Linked DNA regions of Homo sapiens. The protein of the gene in region 1 interacts with the protein of each later gene in a biochemical or structural test. Each region holds a gene or a part of one and is shown on either strand. Other genes may lie near its edges. The genes, in order: CDCA8, CDH1, RANBP2, TTK and KMT2E.

The links.
Region 2: the proteins of CDCA8 (region 1) and CDH1 form a complex in vitro, tested with the Homo sapiens proteins (one study listed by BioGRID).
Region 3: of the proteins of CDCA8 (region 1) and RANBP2, one has a biochemical effect on the other in vitro, tested with the Homo sapiens proteins (one study listed by BioGRID).
Region 4: of the proteins of CDCA8 (region 1) and TTK, one has a biochemical effect on the other in vitro, tested with the Homo sapiens proteins (one study listed by BioGRID and IntAct).
Region 5: the proteins of CDCA8 (region 1) and KMT2E form a complex in vitro, tested with the Homo sapiens proteins (one study listed by BioGRID).

What each region holds. Positions count from the first base shown.
Region 1 is NC_000001.11:37,701,643-37,706,015, reverse strand, and holds part of CDCA8 (borealin), read right to left. Parts: intron 4,263-4,373; coding exon 4,198-4,262; intron 2,765-4,197; coding exon 2,669-2,764; intron 576-2,668; coding exon 449-575; intron 1-448.
Region 2 is NC_000016.10:68,816,951-68,821,323, reverse strand, and holds part of CDH1 (cadherin-1 isoform 1 preproprotein), read right to left. Parts: intron 2,045-4,373; coding exon 1,899-2,044; intron 1-1,898.
Region 3 is NC_000002.12:108,717,649-108,722,635, reverse strand, and holds the start of RANBP2 (E3 SUMO-protein ligase RanBP2), read right to left. Parts: upstream 3,155-4,987; 5' UTR 3,030-3,154; coding exon 2,958-3,029; intron 1-2,957. UniProt on the Homo sapiens protein: E3 SUMO-protein ligase which facilitates SUMO1 and SUMO2 conjugation by UBE2I. Involved in transport factor (Ran-GTP, karyopherin)-mediated protein import via the F-G repeat-containing domain which acts as a docking site for substrates.
Region 4 is NC_000006.12:80,021,256-80,025,628, reverse strand, and holds part of TTK (dual specificity protein kinase TTK), read right to left. Parts: intron 3,306-4,373; coding exon 3,157-3,305; intron 1-3,156.
Region 5 is NC_000007.14:105,111,705-105,116,077, reverse strand, and holds the end of KMT2E (inactive histone-lysine N-methyltransferase 2E), read right to left. Parts: intron 4,254-4,373; coding exon 2,745-4,253; 3' UTR 1,059-2,744; downstream 1-1,058. UniProt on the Homo sapiens protein: Associates with chromatin regions downstream of transcriptional start sites of active genes and thus regulates gene transcription. Chromatin interaction is mediated via the binding to tri-methylated histone H3 at 'Lys-4' (H3K4me3).

The DNA.
Region 1 (4,373 bases):
AACGTGGTGAAACCCCCATCTCTACCAAAAATACAAAAGTTAGCTGGGCATGATGGCGTGTGCCTGTAGTCCCAGCTACTCAGGAGGCTGAGGCAAGAGAATCGCTTGAACCCAGGAGGCAGAGGTTGCAGTGAGCCGAGATCGCACCACTGCACTCCCGCCTGGTGACAGAGCAAGACTCCATCTCAAAAAAAAAAAAAAAAAACCCACAAAAAACAAAAACAAAACCAAAAAACAGAAAAACAGAACCCAGAGCTGAGCAACGATCTTTGCAGTCTGGGCCTCTAACCTGGGAGAGAAAACTGGGTTCTGAGTCCCGCAGAAGTGTGGAGATCAGGACCCACGCACTGAAAGGACTCTGAGGGTGAAGCGTGGGTGAGGGCCCAGGGAAAAGAAATGCTTGACTAAGCAGCACACTGTGGCCTGGCTTCCCTTGGAAATACTTCACCTCTCCGCCGCCCACTGGCACAGTGAGGAAGATCTCTTTGCTGTCAGCAAGAGGGCTGCCATTCCCTGAGATGTTGTAAATCCGCTCTCCTGCTGCTGGAGTACGCAGGCCAGGGGTCTTGAAGACCCTAGAATGGGAAAATCTCTGTGAAGATAGCTTGGCAATTGGATGACACCAAACTCTATAGGCCATTTTAACCTTACTCTGGCCTCAAGTTGCAGTTTTTAAGTCATACATTCCTAAGAAAGCACGTTCTAAATTTAGAAAAAAAAAATGTTTTAAAGCAGTAATGACTAAACACAGCTGGAGAAAGAAGGTTGTAATTATTGAACATACATCTTACAAAAAGCCAACTCTTATCCACATAAAGTTTAGGTCCAAAGCTCCATATGGGTGCCATCATCCATCCATCCACAAAGCCAGAAATACGCTGGTTAATTGTTTCCAGGCGTGGCTGCTTCCATCAAGAGGAATTTTTCAGAGGCAAAGGAGGATGATTTAGATATTACATCATTATACTAATTTCTCAAGACAGTTAAAATACTGCTACCTAGTTTTCCCTAAATGCCTTTTGTTACATATTCATGTGAGAAAACAAACAGTAAAGAAAAGTGGGAACTGGCTGAGTGCCGTGGCTCATACCTGTAATCCCAGCACTTTGGGAGGCCGAGGGGGGTGGATCACCTGAGGTCAGGAGTTCGAGACCAGCCTGGCCAACATGGCAAAATCCTGTCTCTATTAAAAATACAAAACTTAGCTGGGCATGGTGGCATGTACCTATAATCTCAGCTACTCAGGAGGCTGAGGCAGGAGAATTGCTTGAACCTGAGAGGTGGAGGTTGCAGTGAGCCGAGATTGTGCCATTGCACTCCAGCCTGGGTGACAGAGCGAGACTCCGTCTCAAAAAAAAAAAAAAAAAAAAAAAAAAAAAGTGGCAATTAAAAGTAGAAAATAAATCTTCAACACTTCCCCACACCAGAGATAACCACTTCTTGCTCTCCTCCCCAGGGGTAACCACTCTGAATTCCTTATCTATCCTTCCAGAAACTTTGTATGTATATAAAACCAAATGGGATCATACAGCACAGTGTTCAGCAACCTGCTCGGAGATGCTCTGTGATCACGGTGCTCTTTCCCTGTCAGCACACACAGATCCAGTCTTTTTTAATGGCTATACAGCATCTCCTATTTGGTCAACTAGGTTCTTTGGAAGGTATTAACTTATGCTGCAAGAATATCCTCGCTTATGCCAGCCTCCAAAAAAGCAGTATCAATTTTTACTTCTACCAAGAGTACAGGAGAGTGCCTACTCATCTTTAAAAAACTGATTTGAGGCCGGGTGTGATGGCTCATGCTTGTAATCCCAGTACATTGGAAGGCCGAGGTGGGCAGATTGCTTGAGCTCAGGAGTTCGAGACCAGCCTGGGCAACCTGGCGAAATCCCATCGCTACAAAAAAACAAAAAATTAGCCAGGCATGGTGGCATGCTTGGGAGCTAAGGTGGGAGAAGCACTTGAGCCCGGGAAGTCAAGGTTGCAGTGAGCCGTGATTGTGCCACTGCTCTCCAGCCTGGGCATTGGAGTGAGACCCTGCCTCATAATAAATAAATATTTTAAAAATAAAATAAAAACCTTCTGATTTGAATCAGAAAAGGCCAAAAACGTCACCTAGAGGCCTCCTAGTCATCACAGGCAGAATATTCACCTCCCTCCCATTAAAGAATCATTTTGCCACTGAAGATAGGTGAAACTACACTTAAGGGAGAGGCATACACCAGGAAACCCAGCTGGCCACTGTCCTCTGACAAGGCATCCCAGGCCAAGGACTCGGGACTATTTTCTTTTCTTTTCTTAAGACAGAGTCTCACTCTGTTGCCCAGGCTGGAGTGCAGTGGTGCAATTGCAGCTCACTGCAACCTCCACCTCCTGGGTTCAAGCAATTCTCCTGTCTCAGCCTCCTGAGTAGCTGGGATTACAGGCGTGCACCACCACACCCAACTAATTTTTGTATTTTTAGTAGACGCAGCGTTTCATCATCTTGGCCAGGCTGGTCTTGAACTCCTGACCTCAAGTGATCCGCCTGCCTCGGCCTCTCAAAGTGCTGGTATTACAGGCGTGAGCTACCGTGCCTGGCCTAGGAGTATTTTCTTAGACACTCCTTCTCTGGGTAGTGCTCAATGTTGGAGTCCCATCAAATCCAAGTGTTTCCCTCGATACTCACCTTGAGTCAAACCTGGGTGTCAGGCCTGGAGTTGGTTTGACCATGGACACCTCCAATCGGCCCACGGCTGGGGTAACAGTGTTAGCACGGCTTGACCTACAGGTAAGAAATGGCCATCAGGTATGCCAACTCTCAGGTTCCACGAAGGCAGCAGCAGAGGAGTGACACGTGGAGAGCTGACTGTGAGATACTGCTCCGGGCGCCTCGCACACATCGACTCACGTGACCCTTCTAACACGGGAGGCCAGCACTGCTGCCATCCTCATACACAGATGCAGAAACTCAGGTGCATCAAGTTTTAAAAACTTGCCCAAGATCACATATCCAATTAGGATGGAGCCAAAACTTTGAACCAAAGTAGTCTGCCTCCAGAATCTGACTTTTTTTTTTTTTTTTGAGACGGAGTCTTGCTCTGTTGCCCAGGCTGGAGTGCAATGGCGTAATCTTGGCTCACTGCAACCTCCACCTCCTGGGTTCAAGCGATTCTCCTGCCTCAGCCTCCCGAGTAGCTGGAACTACAGGCATGCACCACCACACCTGGCTAATTTTTGTATTTTTAGTAGAGACAGGGTTTCACCATGTTGGCCAGGCGGGTCTCAAACTCCTGACCTCAAGTGATCCACCTGCCTTGGCCTCCCAAAGTGCTGGGATTACAGGTGTGAGACACCACACTCAGCCTCAGAATCTGACTTTTTAATCAAGGAGACAGCCTCTTCATGCGAAGGCTCCCCCAGCTGGAATTCTGTCCTTGTGCCAGGCAGCTGCTGCACTGCTCAAGAGAAATGAGTTCGCTCCTCCACAGACATGCATCCCGGTGACTACTCTCCTAAGCTGCTGTACCTTCCCCCACATGGCTTATGGTAGAGTCCAGTATAATCAACTCAAGCCCATAGAGGTTCTTCACTTTGCAGGACTGGACAAAACATTTCAAGAAACCAATTATAGGTAAGTGACAGCCACTCTATGACGAGCTATGGGGTAGCTCTACATATGGACTATCAGGAACTGAAACATAACAGGCAGTTCTTGCTATACTTAAAAAAAAAAAGTGGGGGCTGAGGTGGGTGGATCACCTGAGGTCGGGGGTTCAAGACCAGCCTGACCAACATGGAGAAACCCCGCATCTACTAAAAATACAAAATTAGCCGGCATGGTGGCACATGCCTATAATCCCAGCTACTCGGGAGGCTGAGGCAGGAGAATCATTTGAACCCGCGAGGCAGAAGTTGCAGTGAGCCAAGATTGCACCATTGCACTCCAGCCTGGCCAACGAGATTGAAACTCCGTCTCAAAAAAAAAAAAAAAAAAAAGTGGGGAAGGATAGAGAATGTACATTAAAGTACTGGAGATGGTTTTGGTTTAGGTCATTTCTAGAGACCCCTCCAGCTTGGATACTCAAGGATTCAGTGATTTTAAGCTGCTTTCAAACACTAGCCACCAGAGCCTTTTCACTGCCCCTCACTTTCTGCCATGATATATATGGCTCTCCAATAAAACCCAAAACACCACAACTTTAGAAAATCCACTACCTTTTCCCTTTTCCTTTTCCTTGTATGGACTGAGTTCTCTTCTTGGATGGAGGACACCTTTTGACCTGCAGTCACAATCAAATGAGACTAAGGTTACAAAAAACCCAGCAAAGAGGAAGGTAAGGAGGGTTTTTTTTTTTTTTTTAAAGCATTAAGAACAAGCTTTGGATAGTTAA
Region 2 (4,373 bases), on another chromosome or scaffold:
TTTAAATTTTTTTTGTAGAGAGGGGGTCTTATCATGTTGCTCAGGCTGGTCTTGAACTCTTGAGCTCAAGTGATCCTCGCATCTTAGCCTCTGAAAGTGTTGGGATTATAGGCGTGAGCCACTGCGCCCAGCCCATCCACACTTCTGTTTGCATTTCTTTTATATCTTGACACAACACGGAGCATATGGTAGTAGGAAAAATTGGTACCCAGGGAACTATCATCAATATTAGTATACGATACGGATACAAAACAACAGAAGAATCCATCTCAAACCTATAAATAGATATGTCTAGATGGCATGACTGTAAATTTTTAAAACTTTTTTCTCATGTAAATTTTATTTTTTAACAATGAGCACACGTCATTTAAAATTAACTCAAGGAGGCCAAGCATGATAACTCATGCCTGTAATCCCAGCATTTTGAGATTATGGGCAGTATGTTGCCCAGGCTAGTCTTGAACTCCTGGCCTCAAGCCATCTCCCACCTCAGACCCCCAAAGTGTTGGGATTACAGGTGTGACCCTAGCACCCAGCCTATAAATGTATTTAAATACACAGAAGCAGTCTGGAAGGACCCACACCTAACTGATTTAACACCTAACTAATTTCACCCACATGGGTATTAACATTTTTCAGGTAAAGGAATTGAGGGACATAAAAATTAAACAGCAGGCCAGGCACGGTGGCTCACACCTGTAATCCCAGCACTCTGGGAGGCCAAGGTGGGCAGATCACAAGGTCAGGAGTTCAAGACCAGCTTGGCCAATATGGTGAAACCCCGTTTCTACTAAAAATACAAAAAATTAGCTGGGCGTGGTGGTGCACACCTGTAATCCCAGCTACTTGGGAGGCTGAGGTAGGACAATTGCTTGAACCTGGGAGGCGGAAGCTGCAGTGAGCCAAGATTGCACCACTGCACTCCAGCCTGGGTGACAGAGCAAGACTCTGTCTCAAAAAAAAAAAAAAAATTAAACAGCAAATCCAAGGTCACACAAGTATTAAGCTTTGGAAATGGATTGTAAACCATCATTACCTGGTTCCCTTAGGGAAGGAATAAAGAGTGAGTAGTGAAAAGTAAGTTCTGTTTGACCAAAATTACTTGAAAAAACAATTTTTTTTTTGGAGACAGAGTCTTGCTCTGTTGCCCAGGATGGAGAGCAGTGGCGCAATCTTGGCTCACTGCAGCCTCCACCTTTCAGACTCAAGCAATCCTACCACTTCAGCCTTCTGAGTAGCTGGGCCTACAGGTGCTCACCAACACACTCAGCTAATTTATGTACTTTTTGTAGAGACAGGGTTTTGCCATGTTACCCAGGCTGGTCTTGAACTCCTGGGCTCAAGTGATCCTCCCACCTCAGCCTCTCTAAGTGCTGGGATTACAGGTGTGAGTCACCGTGCCCAGCCCACTTGAATTTTTGATAATAAGAATGCCTTTGTTTAAGAATAAAAGAGAAATCTTTTGCAGCAACATGGATGAAACTGGAGGCCATTGTCTCAAGTGAAACGAATCAGACATATAAGGAGAAATACTGCATGTTCTCACTTAGAAGTCGGAGTTCGATAATGTGTACACATGGATGTAGATTGTGGAATGATAGACAATGGCAGCTGGGAAGGGTCCAAGGGGTGGGAGGGGGTAGATGATGAACAATTACTTAATGGGTACAATGCATGTTATTTGGGTGACGGATACCCTAAAAGCCCTGACTTTACCACTACACATCTATGCATGTAACAAAATTACCCTTGTACTCCATACATTTATACAAATCAATCCAGCAAACAAAAAGGATAAAAGAAAAAGAATGAACTCTTCCCTCCAAAAGAAGGGAGGGGCAAGGAACTGAACTAGCTAGGAGGTCGAGGCAGCAAAGGCTCAGATGAGGCCCCCTTACCATTGTCTGTAGCTATGATTAGGGCTGTGTACGTGCTGTTCTTCACGTGCTCAAAATCCTCCCTGTCCAGCTCAGCCCGAGTGGAAATGGCACCAGTGTCCGGATTAATCTCCAGCCAGTTGGCAGTGTCTCTCCAAATCCGATATCTGAACGGGGACAAGCTCTGGCTTTTAGAATAGGACCAGCAAACAACATGTAGCTGAAAACGGCTTAAGCGCTTCTTCAGTTATATGGTTACTTCCAACGTTTTTATTTTGAAAACCAACAATAGGCCGGTCGCGGTGGCTCATGCCTGTAATCCCAACACTTTGGGAGGCTGAGGTGGGCAGATCACCTGAGGTCAGGGGTTTGAGACCAGCCTGGTCAACATGGTGAAACCCTGTCTCTACTAAAAATACAAAAATTAGCTGGGTGTGGTGGCACACGCCTGTAATCCCAGCTACTGGGGAGGGTGAGGCAGGAGAATCGTTTGAACCTGGGAGATGGAGGTTGCAGTGAGCCGAGATTGCACCACTGCACTCCAGCCTGGGCAACAAAAGTGAAACCCTTTCTTTCTTTTTTTTTTTTTTTTTTTTTGAGACGGAGTCTTGCTCTGTAGCCCAAGCTGGAGTGCAGTGGCGCGATGTCGGCTCGCTGCAAGCTCCACCTCCTGGGTTCACACCATTCTTCTGCCTCAGCCTCCGGAGTAGCTGGGACTAGAGGCGCCCGCCATCACGCCCGGCTAATTTTTTTGTATTGTTAGTTGAGACGCGGTTTACACCGTTTTAGCCAGGATGGTCTCGATCTCCTGACCTCATGATCCGCACGTCTCGGCCTCCCAAAGTGCTGGGATTACAGGCGTGAGCCACCGCGCCCGGCCGAAACTCCGTCTTTAAAAAAAAAAAAAAAAAAAGAAAACCAAGAAAACCAACAATACAACAGACAAGTTACTATAATAGTATGATGACCATCCATGAACTCTTCACCTGAGTTTACTCATTGTTAATACTTTGCCACATCTGCTCTGTCTATATTGACACACGCCTACATAATTTCTTGTTCTGCTGAACCATCTGCAAATAAATTGCAGAAGTCATGTTCCTTTACTTATAAATATGTCAATGTGTTATCTCCTAAGAACAAAGGCATTCTGTTATATAACCCCAATTTGATTTTCTTTTTTTTTCTTTTCTTTTTTTTTTTTTTTGGGACAGAGTCTCGTTCTGTCGCCCAGGCTGGAGTACAGTGGCGTGATCTCAGCTCACTGCAAGCTCCACCTCCCAGGTTCATGCCATTCTCCTGCCCCAGCCTCCTGAATAGCTGGGTCTACAGGCACCCGCCACCACGCCCGGCTAATTTTTTGTATTTTTAGTAGAGACGAGGTTTCACCATGTTAGCCAGGATAGTCTCGATCTCCTGACCTCAGATGATCCACCCATCTCGGCCTCCCAAAGCACTGGGATTGCAGGTGTGAGCCACCGTGACCAGTCTTGATTTTCAATTTTAGGAAACAAAACTTTGATAGAATTCTATTGTCGAATATATGGTGCATATTCGAATTGTCAGATTTTCCAAAAATGTCCTTTATAGCAACCTTGCACCCTTCTGGATTCAGGATCCAATATGGCCTTTCGTTGGCATGGCTCTTCCTTAGGTCTTTCTTTTCTGTCACTGACATTTTTGAAATGTGCTGGCCGTTGTTTTGTAGCATGCCCCTTAACTTGGGTTTGTCTGATTATTCCTCAAAATTTAGATTCAGGTAATCCATTTCAGGGGTCGGTGGGGGCAAGAACAGGACAGAGGTGATGCTGTGGCCTCCCTAGTGCAGGACACTGGGAGGCACATGATGTCTGTCTGTGCTTCTATTGATAACTTTGATCACTTGGATAAGGGAAAGGCCACCAGATTTCTTCACAGCAAAGGTGCCTTTTTTCACTGCATGATTAACCTATAATCTGCAGGTAGATAATTTGAGAATATCTTGTTCAGCAACTAATTTTCACCCAATGGATTTGGCATCTGTGGATGATTCTTGCTGAAGCAATGATTACTATAATCCTTATTTATTTTTAAAAGCAGACTCCTGCAGACCAGCTCCCCCAAACAATACAGTAGTTCCTAAATGGTGGCAACATGCCACCTCCTCTCCTGTCATGAACATCTGGAGATGCAGGTTGCCCTGTTGACCTGTGGGTGGACTGCACTATTGCCATTTAATGGGAGGTACAGGGAGGCTAACAGAGATCTACTGCTCAGTTATTTACTAGGGTCATGGAAAGGCTCTGAAAGAGAAACTAAGAAATCAAAGGAGGAAAGGGCTCTAAGAAACTGTGGGCTTGGCCTCACTTCTTTGGAAGTGCAAAGCAATGAATTACATCAAGTGGTCATTGTTCCAGGCGTAAGGGCCTCTGGAAACAGACACTAAAGACCTGGTCCCTGAATCTGCCCCAGGAGATGCTTTGAACTATCTATTTCACTACTGCAAGCTTTCAACCC
Region 3 (4,987 bases), on another chromosome or scaffold:
CACATGTGAGGGAGTAGAAAAATGGCAAAACAAGAGAAGACTAACAAATGAAAGCACAATGAAAGACTAGAAAGATATGATATACAGACGCATCATCACACTCCAAAACTCCGACATTCTAGAAAGCATGGGCAGTTCACAGATGGCCAGCCTCTGCCAAACTGGGGGAGAATACTAACCTCTTCATATTCTTCACAGCCACTGCCTCTTCTCCCTCCATTCTTTACCTTCTATCCAAAGCACCCTGTTTTGTCATTTCACTCAAACCTAACTTTACAGAATAGCTTCACATGTTCCAAAGTTACTCACTAGTTAATCCATATTCCGCTGAAATCCCCAGGTTCTAATGTAAATGACTTTAAATTTGGGGGAAAAAAAAGACTCTAAGTGTAAGAGAGGTGTCATAATAACCAATCCTCAAAATTCTGCCACCACTCCACTTTATTTAATGGAGAAGTTATGTAGTTGAAAGAACATTCTAACTTCTGTCTAGACCAGTGGTTTTTAATCTTTTGGAAGCCAAGGTCCCCACTAAGAATCTCAGAAAGGCTCTAAGCTTGCTTTTTTTTTTTTTTAAGCTTGTTTAAAAAAAAAAAAATCAGGCTGAGCAGAGTGGCTCACACCTGTAATCTCAGCACTTGGGGCCAAGGCGGGAGGATCACTTGAGCCCAGGAGTTGGAGACCAGCCTGGGTAACATGATAAGACCCCGTCTCTACATTAAAGAAAAAAGCCGGGCATGGTGGCACATGCCTGTAGTCTCAGCTACCCAGGAGGCTAAGGTGGGAGGATGGATTGAGCCCAGGACGTCAACGCTGCAGTGAGCCACGATCCCGCCACAGCACTCCAGCCTGGGAGACAGAAAGAGACCTTGTCTCAAAAATAAAATAATGGCCGGTGCAGTGGCTCACGCCTATAATCCCAACACTTTGGGAAGTGGAGGCGGGGAAATCACTTGAGCCCAGGAGTTCAAGAACAGCCTGGGCAACATGGTGAAACCCAGTCTCTACCAAAAATACAAAACAAAACAAAACAGCGGGTGTGGTGGGTACACCTGTGGTCCCAACTACTCGGGAGACTGAGGTGGGAGCATCGCTTGAGCTGGGGAGGCGGAAGGTGCAGTGAGTCGAGATAGCGCCACTGCATCCAGCTGGGTGACAGAGTGAGACCCCACCTCAAAAAAAATAAAATAACACAAAAATTAAAGTCTTTAATTTCAGGAGTTACAGGAACCCTCAATTAAGGTCTGTTTTAGACTCTATCATCACATTCATATTTATACTATGCTAGCAGTTTGAAATTACAATGTACAAGTAGATATCTATCCTCCTCCTCTGGAGGAATAGACTGTAACTTACTCCACTGTTCCCAAGAGAAACTAAATCAGACCCACTGCCAAAATTCTGCTGCACTATCTATTTGACCCTGAACAAGTATCTTAAATCTCTACAGGTCTCAATATCCACAGGGCTGCTGGAAGCGCAAAATAAGATAACCTATGCTTAGTTACGATAAGAGACACAATTATGCTACTATTATAATCATGGTCATCCGTGAGTTTCCGGGTTTTTTTTGTTTTTGTTTTTGTTTTTTTGGAGTCTCCCTCTGTCGCCCAGGCTGGAGTGCAGTAGCGCGATCTCGGCTCACTGGAACCTCCGCCTCCCGGGTTCAAGCGACTCTCCTGCCTCAGCCTCCCGGGTAGCTGGGACTACAGGCATGCGCCACCACGCCCGGCTAACTTTTTTTGTATTTTTAGTAGAGACGAGGTATCAACATGTTAGCCAGGCTGGTCACGAACTCCTGACCTCAGGCAATCCGCCCTCCTCGGCCTCCCAAAGTGGTGGGATTACAGGCGTGAGCCACTGCGCCCCGCCAATATCCTTTTAACATCAACAATAAAAAGTGACTTGTAGCTAACATTTAGTGCTATGTGTCAAGCAATACCCTAAATGTTTAAAATGGATCATCCTATCAAATTCTATTAATGTTACAACTCCATCTATGGATGAAAAGTGTAACTGGCCCCAAATACCCAGCTTATAAACGACAGTGCTGTGATTATTCAAGCCAAAGCAAACTGACTCAAGATTCTGCGCACATCCACCTTTAATAGCTTCTTCCGTCACTCTTTAGATCCAATTACTAAAGTCTTATTGAATCCAAAATAGATCACATTATTTACATGTAAAGAGGAAAAATACCCTTAAAACATTTGTGGAAAAGGTTAAAAATTGCAAGCCATACTAACGATTTGTAAGAACTTTAGAATTTTTTTTTTTTAAGCAAAGGCAGCTACCAAAGTGTTCCGGGCGGGGAGGGGGGCGAGGGAGGTGAGTATGAGGAGCGGAGTGGAGCTGGACCCTTACAAAGGGACAGCGACAAACACCTCATACTCAAAACAAGGGGACTTTCAGTGTCATTTGCGCCGTCGGGCCATTGCAAATGTCCGCGCTGAGATGCCTACCTTGTCACTCGACGCAGCCGCCAAAGCTCACCCGGAGCTGCGTCAGTCCCCACTGGGTTCCTCCAGGCCAAGGAGGTACGACCTCCGCCGCAGCATATAAAGTATATGTCCAGGAGATGGGAAGAAACCCGCCGATACAGCACCCGGGTGCCCAAGCCCCCGAGAACTAGGCCGCGCGGGTACTACGGGGTGCGCGATCGGCCAGAAAGCCCGGGCCAGGGCGGCCCCAGGAGCGAGCACCGTCGGGAACAAGCGTCGGGAACAAGCCGGGAGAAAGAGGAAGCGCCGGCGCCAAAGGTCTCCCGCCCACCGCTGTCCCCCCAGGACTCTTCATGCGCTTGCAAGCGCCACGCCGCCCACAGGACTGCGCCAGCCGGCCGGCGCCTCAACAGAGCGCGCCAGGGAGCAGCGCCCGTCGGGAGCCATGACGCCTGAGCAGCGCGAGGCCGCCGCCCGGCCAGGTCGAGGCCGTCGGTCTCTTCGAGACCCACTCACCTGTCGAGGCGACGGGGTGGAGCCCTGCACCGAGGCGATGTACCGCTCCACGTCAGCCTTGCTGCGCCTCATCGCGCCGCCAACCTGGCTCCCGAGGCGCGTGAGACCAGCGCTCAGGCCCGCAGCAGTCGCCACTTCCAAGAGGAAAGCGCCTGCAAACCAGTGACGCAGCGCCGTAGCCGGCGGAGGACCACTGTGACGAACTTGCGGCGCAGCCGGCGGAGGACCACTGTGACGAACTTGCGTACTGCGTCAGCAGTGTGCGCCACGTTGGCGACGTCGGCGCTCGAGCTGCACTCGGCCAGGCTCTTGGCAGCGCCGCGTGCTCTGAGGGTGTCTTGGCAAGCCGGGATCAGATTTCGGCCGCCAGTGTCCACAGCCTAGGGCGTAGATTTCCAGCAGATAACAATTTGCGTGATGGGCTCTTAAGCGTTTTGGTCACTTGTTCTAAATTATAAGTGCGCAATGCATTGGAAGAAAAAAAGCACTCAGGCCAATTTGGTGAACGTGTAAATTGGAACAAAGTTTCTGGAGATGACTGGTTAAATACGTTGCATCGGACATGTGTGAATACTAAAGCATACATTTTTAAATTCATATCTTATTAAATGAGGGCCAGGCGTGGTGGCTCACGCCTGTAATCCCAGCACTTTGAGAGGCCACGGCGGGCGGATCATGAGGTCAGGAAATCGAGACCATCCTGGCTAGCACAGGGAAACCCCATCTCTACCAAAAATACAAAAAATTAGCCGGCCGTGGTGTCGGACGCCTGTAGTCCCAGCTACTCCGGAGGCTAAGGCAGGAGAATCGCTTGAACCCGGGAGGCGGAGGTTGCAGTGAGCCGAGATTGCGCCGTCTGGGCGACAGAGGGAGACTCCGTCTGAATTTAAAAAAAAAAAAAAAGGGAGATTTAGAACTGCATAATGAAAAAGACCACAAATATTAAGTTTTGGACAATTACAATTTTTTAAACAGTCATCTCGGCGGGGGATTGGTTCCAGAACCACCGTCTTATGCCAAAATCCACGCATTCCGCCGGGCGCTGTGGTTCACGCCTGTAATCCCAGCACTTTGGGAGGCCGAGGCGGGCGGATCACCTGAGGTCAGGAGTTCGAAACCAGCCTGGCCAACATGGCGAAAGCCCATCTCTACTAAAAATACAAAAAATTACCTGGGCGTGGAGGTGGGCCCCTATAATCCCAGCTACTCGGGAGGCTGAGGCACGAGAATCGCTTGAAACTGAGAGGCGAGGGTTACAGTGAGCTGAGATCGCGCCACTGCACTCAAGCCTGGGCGAGAGTAAGACTTCCTAAAAAAAAAAAGAAGAAGAAGAAGTCCGCGCATTCTCAAATCCCGCAGTCAGTCCTGCGGGTGGAACACTTAGAGGAAAAGTCAGACCTCTCTATATGCAGGCCCCTCCAATACTGTATTTTCTGTCGGCTTATAAGCGGGCCCAGGCAGTTCAAACCCATGTTATTCAAGGGTCAACTGTGTATATAGGAATAGCCATTCGCCTGGCACAGTGGCTTAAGCTGGTAGCCCCAGCACTTTGGGAGGTCGAGGCGGGAGGATCCCTCGAGTCCAGGAGTTCCAGGTTACAATGAACTGTGATAGCGCCACTGCATTCCATCCTGGGCACCAGAGTGAGACCCTTGTCTCAAAAAAAAAAAAAAAAAGGAAAAGGAATAGCCCCCCCAAATCTATATATATTTCACTAGCAGAATAACAGAACATACCAAAATTTAACAGTAATAATGTAAAGATTTTGAGCCGTCTGTATTTTCCAAATCTTCAAAAATGTCTATTTTGGGAATTTGGATATTAAAATCTTACTTTTAAAACAAAATTTAACAAAACATTTTTAATAGTGAGAACCTTTTAGATTTTAAAAGCTCACATTTGTGTAAACATTACAGTCTGAATTATGTGGACAAATATCAAATGCGTTGACATTTTTAACTGGAAATTTGGGCTATTTTGGTTGTGGATAATTTTTTATCCTTTTTGTTTTTCCATATTTTCTAAATTTT
Region 4 (4,373 bases), on another chromosome or scaffold:
ATCTAGCCTGGAAAGCCTGCTAACCCTTTACATAAAGTTTGCTAACCCCTGCTGTAGCACATCTCAATTAAATAGAGAACCAAGTTTTGCTTGAATACTTTTAGTAACTAAGCACTCACTAGTCTACAGAGGTTCACTTCAATTTCAGGACAGCTTTAGTTATTAGAAAATATTTGCAGATAATTTGGATTATATTGGTTTATCTATTATAATTTCAACACACTGGTCCTCATTACGCACTTGAGAATTACAATGACTAAATCTATCCTACTTTCTACATTTCAGTCTTGGCCAAGAAATTTTTTTTCCAGGATAAATTTTCCCTCTCATTTAAGACTTCGTGTGTCTGTGCTCACGTACAAGCACGCACATATTTTAAGATTAGTGGTAAAGATGTTACTGAGGAACTGCTGTAATAAGATTAATGAACAAGGAAAATGAAAAAGATCACGATCATAGAGTGGAATGTTAGCATCTGCGATTTTGGAGGTCAGAATTGAGGATATAAGGAGTAGGTGGCTAAAGTAAAATTAAGGAAATGGTCATGAGACACGAAGAAGTTAGAAAAATGAAGGCCAGCTGTAGGACTGGTAATACACAGGGGTGTAGAAGCCAACAAAAACAATGACAGTTGTTGGGATCTGGTTGATCCAGAGCCTTGTATCTTCAAGGAATGATGGGGAGTTACCAGGACATTCAGAGATGAGAGTAAGTCAGAAGTATCAAAAGAGCAGGCCTTTTGCAAGAAAGAGGAAGAAATGGTCTGGACACAGAACAGAGAGCACACAGCCATATGGTAAGTGAGATGTGAGACAAAAACAATCCTCCCTTGAAGGGACTGCTGGACAAGCAGTATCCACAAGAAACTGCCTAGATTCTATACTTTTTCTTTCTACGTGTACTATTCAATGGTTTTTAGTTGCTCAGTGGTTCACAGCTGTGCAACCATCACCACAATCCAATTTTAGAATATTTTCGTCTTCTAAAAAGAAAACTCACACCCATTAGCAATCACTCCCCACTCCCCACTGCTCCCAGCCCCTGGCAACCACTAATCTACTTTCCACCTCTATGGATTTGCCTATTCTGACCATTTTATCTAAATGGGATCATAAAATATATGGGCTTTTGTGGTGAGCTTCTTTCACTTAGCACGTTGTAAATGTTCACTTATGTTGTAACATGTACTAGTACTTCATTACTGTTTATTGTTGATTAACATTCCATTGTATGGATGTACCACATTTTCTTTATCCATTCATCGGTTGGATATTTTGTTATTTCCACTTTTTGGCAATTATGAAAATGCTGCTATGAATATTTATGTACAAATATTTGTGTGGATGTATGTTTTCAATTCTCTTAACTACAAACCTAGGAGTGGAATTATTGGATCATATAAAGCTACGTTTAACCTTTTGAAGAACTCCCAGACTCTTATCCAAAATGACTGCACCATTTTACATTCCCACTAGCAGCATATGAAGGTTCTAAAATTCTCCACATCCTTGCCAACACTTGTTATTGTCTCTTGAATTACAGCCGTCCTAGTGGGTGTGAAGTAGTATCTAATTATGGTTTTGCTTTGCATTTCTTTAATGATCCATATGGTTTTCAGTTCCCTTACAATCCTATTAGTGTACAATTTTCAAATAGAAAAAAAAGAGGAGATGCTGGTTTGATACAATCTATGACTCAACCTATCAGGATCCTTATCATCTAGCATTTGTTATCTACATCTACTACTTAAGAGATCTTACTATGACAATATTTACCTTTCTCACTTTTATTTTCTCATGAGTATATAAGGAGTTTTCCAGAGACTGTATGACATGTAATAATGAAATACATTGAATGCAAAAGCAGACATAAGAATCTAGTCTTCTGTTAAGCCAATCATTAGATTTGTAAAAACTCTAACACAGTGCTACTCTTCCCACTGTAGTTATTTTGTTTCAGAAAATACATATTTTTCATAAAAGTACATTTATATTCACATGAGTTTATCAGTTATTTTATTTCATTTTATTTTTTTTGAGACAGAGTCTCGCTCTGTCACCCAGGCCGGAGTGCAGTGGCATGATATCTGCTCACTGCAAGCTCCGCCTCCTGGGTTCACACCATTCTCCTGCCTCAGCCTCCCAAGTAGCTGGGACTACAGGCGCCCACCACCACACCCGGCTAATTTTTTGTATTTTTAGTAGAGACAGGGTTTCACCATGTTAGCCAAGATGGTCTCGATCTCCTGACCTCGTGATCTGCCCGCCTTGGCCTCCCAAAGTGCTGGGATTACAGGCGTGAGCCATCGTGCCCAGCCCTCAGTTATTTTTAATAAATTAATAAACATTTTTAAAGTTTCTTGGCTTTACTTCCTAATATAGTAAATAGAGATAGATATAATCAACATAAACAAAAGCTCTTTAGGGGCACTGATAATTAAGAGTATAAAAGGCCAAATGTTTGAGAACCACTGAATTAATAAAGCCTTTACTATATTTACTACAAGTCACTGAAAAGAAATGGTAAGGAAACTATGGCCATGAACTGCAGCTATAGCTCTTTAGTATCCTACTTGATCATTCCTTCCGAAAAGCCACCAGGAATGATGACTCAGTATGTTACAAATTCATGTACGTTGTCTAGGCTATATTTTTCTATTTTTATCAATGAGTATGACCACAGGAAACTGTTAAGTGCTTGGGACAGCACTGCGCTAGTTCAGAGATCAGCATACAGTTTTCGGTAAAGGACCAGATAGTAAACATTTTAAACTTTGCAGGCCAAGTGGTCTCTAATACAACTAATCAACTCTGCTCTTATAATGCAAAAGCAGCCATAGACATTAAATGAATGAGTGTGTCAGTGTTCCAGTAAGTCTTTATTTACACAATCAGGCTAAGAACTAGATTTGGCCCATAGCACCAGTCTATCGGCAATCTAGAAACACTATCGAAGATAGAAAATAATTTAGCCTGACTTACTGAACGTATGACTGCTACTGATCACCACTTTATAAATGATTTTAAAAACCTTTAAATAAACTATTCTACTAAATATCATACACATTTAATAAAAGAAAACATTTAATATGATCATCAACCTTCGGAAATGCATTATGAACAAAAAAGCAATATTGTACTTTAGTGGAAAAGTTACCTCTGTATTAACTTTTCGGGCTAACTCCGGAATCTGCCAGTGATTTGAAGATGCAGCAGGATTCTGGTTAATACACTCTGACTTTCTCTTAGATTGCCACTGTTTCTGGTTACTCTCTGGAACCTCTGGTTCTTGATACTCTTTAGTTTCTGAAATTGTATTTGTTGTCATTAAAAAGCAAGAATATTTGATCATAATAAACTAAGCCTAAACAACAGAACATATTACAAACTATATGAGTATTTAGTTCTTAAAAACAATCAAGGAGGGAGAGAAACTAAAAGCTTTAAGCCAGCTGCTTAACAATTTGCTTTTAGCAAGTCAATTTCACAAAGTTGCACTATAGTCATCTTCCTACATTGTTACTAAGAACTTTGTCAGAGACCTTGCCACATTTAAATGCTTCTTTACCAATAAATAAGTAAAAATTTAAAAACATATAGATGTTATAAAGTCTTACTAATAGAGAAGCTAATTCATCACTTTTCATAGACCGAGTATCCAACCCTCAAAATGCAATTTAGAACATTTTTTTTTCCTTTTTGCTTTCAGCCTGGAAGCATACTTTGAAACCCTTAGTTTCTCCCTTTCCCACCAGGCATGTCCATGAACAGTGTTCACTTATCTAATTACGTACTTGCTTAGAAATTTCAGGGGCCAGTTTTGAAACAAACCAAGCAGAGATGGAGTTGCAGACTCCTCTTGCATGGGGGGAGTTTCGAACAGTTAGCCTAGCATTACCCAGCTGAAGTCAAGATGACACAAACCATACCTCCAGATGGGCAATTACTCAATATAACTATCACAACAAGACATTCAGACCTGCACCACTCCTGCATCTCTTCCACACCTTTTCCTTTTTAAACCCCTTCACTCAGCCCAAAAAGTTGAAATGGTCTTTTGAGGGCATGAGCCTGGCCAGTCCCCAGCTGCTAGCATTTGATTAATAAAACTGTTTTCCTTCCACCACACCTCACTTCTCATGTTTTTGGCCTCTGTGTTGTGAAGAGCCGGACTTGAGTCAGTTACAAATGTGGTGCCCTGTGTGAGGAACTGTGTGTTTTGAGGGGCTCAGCCTGTACGCCTGGTTTCCAACAAGTGGAGCAATTGGCTGTGGGAGCAGGCCAAGGCTCACCCACTCAGGCTACCAGGCCAACGCAGGAGCCACTTGCAAATGCCAGCTGCTCATGGCTAGCTGACCCTGCAGCTGGGACCTT
Region 5 (4,373 bases), on another chromosome or scaffold:
TTGCTGTTAGGAAACAAGACACATAATCCTCTTAGGAATTACCATTATATCACATTACCACTGTGAGGTAGAATGGATCATTCATTAATTTCTTTATGAAATTTGCATGCTAAGTTTTTCTAATGAGGCTGTAGGTTTCCATGTAAATTCTGTGATAGATAGTGGCTGTAGACTGGTGATGCTATCCGTGATTTCTATGAGAAACATCCTTACAAGAACCATAGGGCATAATTTATATCTTCCCTAAGTGTAAAAGGATTTTTATCAGGGTGATAGTATACTTGAATGAAATTTGTCTAATGCAGTTTTTGCTTATGTTGGAAAATAAACTAGATTATGAATTTTTACAGGTGTGTCCCTTATGATAAAACAGCCTAACTAGTTTATAATACAGAAACGGTTGTTCTAGAAGGAATATACATTTGTATTAGGCATAATATGGCTTTATCAGATTCTTGGCGGCTTGTTGATAAAGAATGCACAAAAACTAAATGAGAACCACTGGTTATGCTAAACATTATAACTAGCTCTCTGACTTCAATTGAATGTCCTATCTATCTTTTCCTTTCTGTAGTCCATGTGAAATCTTCATGGAAAATGACAAGCAGTGGATCACATATGTGTTTATAGCAGATACAGGAGCTGGCTATCTAGAAGTTGGCAGACAGAACTGCCCAAAGGCAGAGAAAAGGTGGATATAAGATCTTCCGAGTCATAAACTTCTTAGGTGAAAACCGATTTACTAACTTGCTTCTTCCCATACCTGGACCATACATAACTAGTTACCACGATAAAGTAAGGAAACTTTCCATTGGAGTAGAGAACTTCTTCAGTTTCTATCCATAGTTCAGGTTATTTCCTAAATTCTCCTTTTTTCTCCCCCTTTTAAATAACTTGAATGAAATTTTGGTAGAAGACTGTATTTTAGAGTATATACTTCATCAAGGAATCAAAATGTATAAGATTCTGCAGTTCACACAAAAGCTTCTGTATGCATATTTCTGTAGTAGGCACATTTCAAGCCAGTGAAGAATTTAAAATGCTTAGAAGGACAAACCTTTTAAGAAGAATATTTTTATTTCACATGCTAGTTACCTTTATTCTGTTTGAAACTATCAGGATAGATGATGTAAAACCATTTCTTCTCAGACAAATGTTTCTTTACTAAATACCATAAATAGAATTTTGTTGGACAAATTGAGGATGGCAAACTTGGCCTATATGTTCTTCTAAAATTTGAAGCTGTGATTAGGATTGAGCCCTAAGTGAGCTGCGTTAATGTACCATCATTAGCTAATTTTCAAAAGGAAATAAATAGAGGTTCAAAGTGTAAAAACATGACTGAATGAGGTCACGCAGTCATTTTAGTGTTTACTTTCTCTGATGCACAGAATTTGTATCCTGTGCCAAATTATGTCAGGTAATTGGATGATGAAAAATATGTTGATTGATAAAACAGTATCATTATTATTGGATGTACTTACTGAATCCTCAGAGGTAGAAGACAAAGGCTGGGAAATTTTTAATTTTTTGAAGATTAATAATTAATAACTAACTAGCATTTTATATTTTAGCAATAAAAACGTTCACTTAAGAGGCCATTTTCATTTCACTGAGAGATCTAGGAATAATGCCTTTTTTCTTTAGTTTTTACACCCAAGACAAATTTTCCTGTTTTGGGCAAACTACCCATATTTTCAAACAGTTGTTGTACCTTGTATTCAAGAACTACTGTAATGCATTAGTGGTCTGGCTTCATTTTGTATGATGCCAGATCCTTAATTTACCCAGCACAATCATTTCAGTAGTTTCCTATGGCTCCTGCAAAAATGCAAACAGAAACCACCACAGGAACAGCCCCTTGCTGCCTCCTGTTGCTGAGGTAGTAGTCGCTAAAGAAAATTGAAGGCTCCTTACAATCTATATTTGAAAACTAGAACTTCTGTAGAAACACACAGATCCCGATCTTAGAAGTTGTACAGGACAATCTGGTAAAACTGACATAATTGTGATTTATTAACATGAATTAAAATGCCCAACCAGTGCTTCAGTGTGACAGTATATTTAAAATAAAAAAGAAATTAAAGGTCATATACTGTACTACTTTCACAAAGATCACACAGTTTTGCAAAAGACTTGTCATATGTACAATGCTATATATCAAATGAGAAAAGCTGTAAGCAATTATATACGCAAAAGAAATGCAGTATTTACAGTTTGTCAGGAGACATTAGAAATCATCTATACATTAAATTACATTTTGCTTGCAAATAACTGGTAAAACAAAATGAGCCATGTCCACACCAAAATATAAAAATCTGTATTGCATTTTTATACCTAAGATGCATTCACAGAACTGCTGCTGACAGGAAAGAAAAAAAAAATCCTCATAGTGCCATTACTTAGCTGAGTACTTAATGTGTATGTATAAAATAATAGAACATTCACTAAATGAATTTAACTAAAAAAAAAAAAAAGATCATACAGCATCAAATCAGCATCAGATCTGCCAGAAAAAAACAGCTGGAATGTTCACTTACAAAATAAAGATACCTAATACTGGCTTAACAGCACATTTTTTAAAGGAATTTTAAAAAGCAAAAATGAGAAAAATACAACGAAAGAGCACTGGTGTTTTTTATACAAAGGTTCATGTACAAGCTTTAAAAAGTACCTTAACAGGTACATATGAAATATACAGTTTATCTTACAGAACATTTAAAAAAATGTTTTTGGAGTCCATTTTAATGCCACCCTGACCCATGGTAATTGTTTTGAAATGTTGGTGGCACCTGTGCTCTGTGAATTGGAATCTGTCCAGGCACTGGAGATGCCTGCTGAGGTCCTTGAACCCCATGTGGCAGGGCCACAGAGCCAGGATGAGGACAGAACCCTGAAGCAGTAGGTGTTGGAATACTGTTTGGTCCTTGGGGCTGGAGATGAGGACCTGTGACAGGTAATGGACAATGTGGCCCTGTTCCAGAAGGCTGGTGCTGGGGTCCCGGTCCCAAAGTGGTATGATGTGTAGCTTGTGAGGGATACGGTGGTACAGTTGGATGAGCACTCGAAGGAAAAAGTGGAGGTCCTTGATGAGGTGGGTGGTGTAAGGCTTGAGCTGATGTGGTATGATGCCCAGAAGCCAAAACACTGGAAGGTGGCGGCGGAGGGGGTGGTGGGGGTGCTGAATTTACAACATGCTGGTGTTGTGCTTGTAGACCTTGGAGTCCTGTGGATGGATGGGGTGGTGGATGGTGATGAGGGGCAGGACCAGGAGGGGGTGGGGGTGGGGGTAAGTGGTGTCCAGCAGTTTGAGAATGAATATGCGACCCAGGGGTGACCGCATGAACAGGCCCTACTACATGTGCTACAGAGTGTTGCTGATGGGAATTCGGCTGTTGTACAAGGTGCGGTCCTGGAGCAGGTGGTGGTGGAGGAGGAGGGGGGACTACGGCAGCAGCAGTTTGATGGTGAATGGTAGGGTTCTGAGAGGGCAAAAAATGCCCTGGAGTCACGTGGTGTCCTGGAACTGTTTGCTGGCTTGTGGTGCCAGGAAGTGCTTGATTTGGTCCTGATGTAAACACAGTTTGTTGAGAAAGACTACCTTTGAGCTGATTATAATTCTGAAAGTTTGCAGAGGGCTGCTGGTTTTGATAGTAAGACGAAGAAGGAGGTGGAGGAGGTGGAGGGGGTGGTGCCGTGCTGTTCAGACTTTGTTGGTTAAACTGACTGTATGTTGCTGAAGATTGTCCTGAGGGTGTCTGTGTAAATAATGTTCCAGAAGTTGCCTGCTGAGTATTGGCTGGAAGGTTCTGTGCTGCTGGATAAAAGTTTCTTTGAGGCTCTCGCTGAGGTGTTCCAACTTGAGGTGACTGTGAATGATGAGGCCTGTAGGGAGATCCTAACTGCTGTGAAGGAGGCTTTGGTGAAAGATAACCATGCTGTACAGGTGTGTGAGGCGTGGATGACTTTGGAGGATTTTCTAGGTGAGGTGATGGAGGACAGTGCAACTTTGTTGGCACAGAAGGCAGCTTTTGTGAAAGTTGCTCAGATGAATTACGAACGTGTGTCTGAGGAGGATGATTCTTTGAAAGTGCTTGGTTGTTATTTGATAGCTGTTTTTGTTGGAGCTCTGTTTTTAGGTGAACACCATTTTCAGCTTCGGATGCACTAACTGTGGAGTCCCATTGGGGATCTGGTTTTGTGAATATTTTCCCGTGTGCTTGAGCAGGAATTACAGATCCAGGTGAACCAGGCTATGAAGAGAAAACAAATTATATACATTCAAGGAACATTTTGTGTACCTTGAGGTTTATTCTTGTTGGTATTTAATACTACCTAAATATTAATTTTAATGGGGGGCAGGAAATAACATC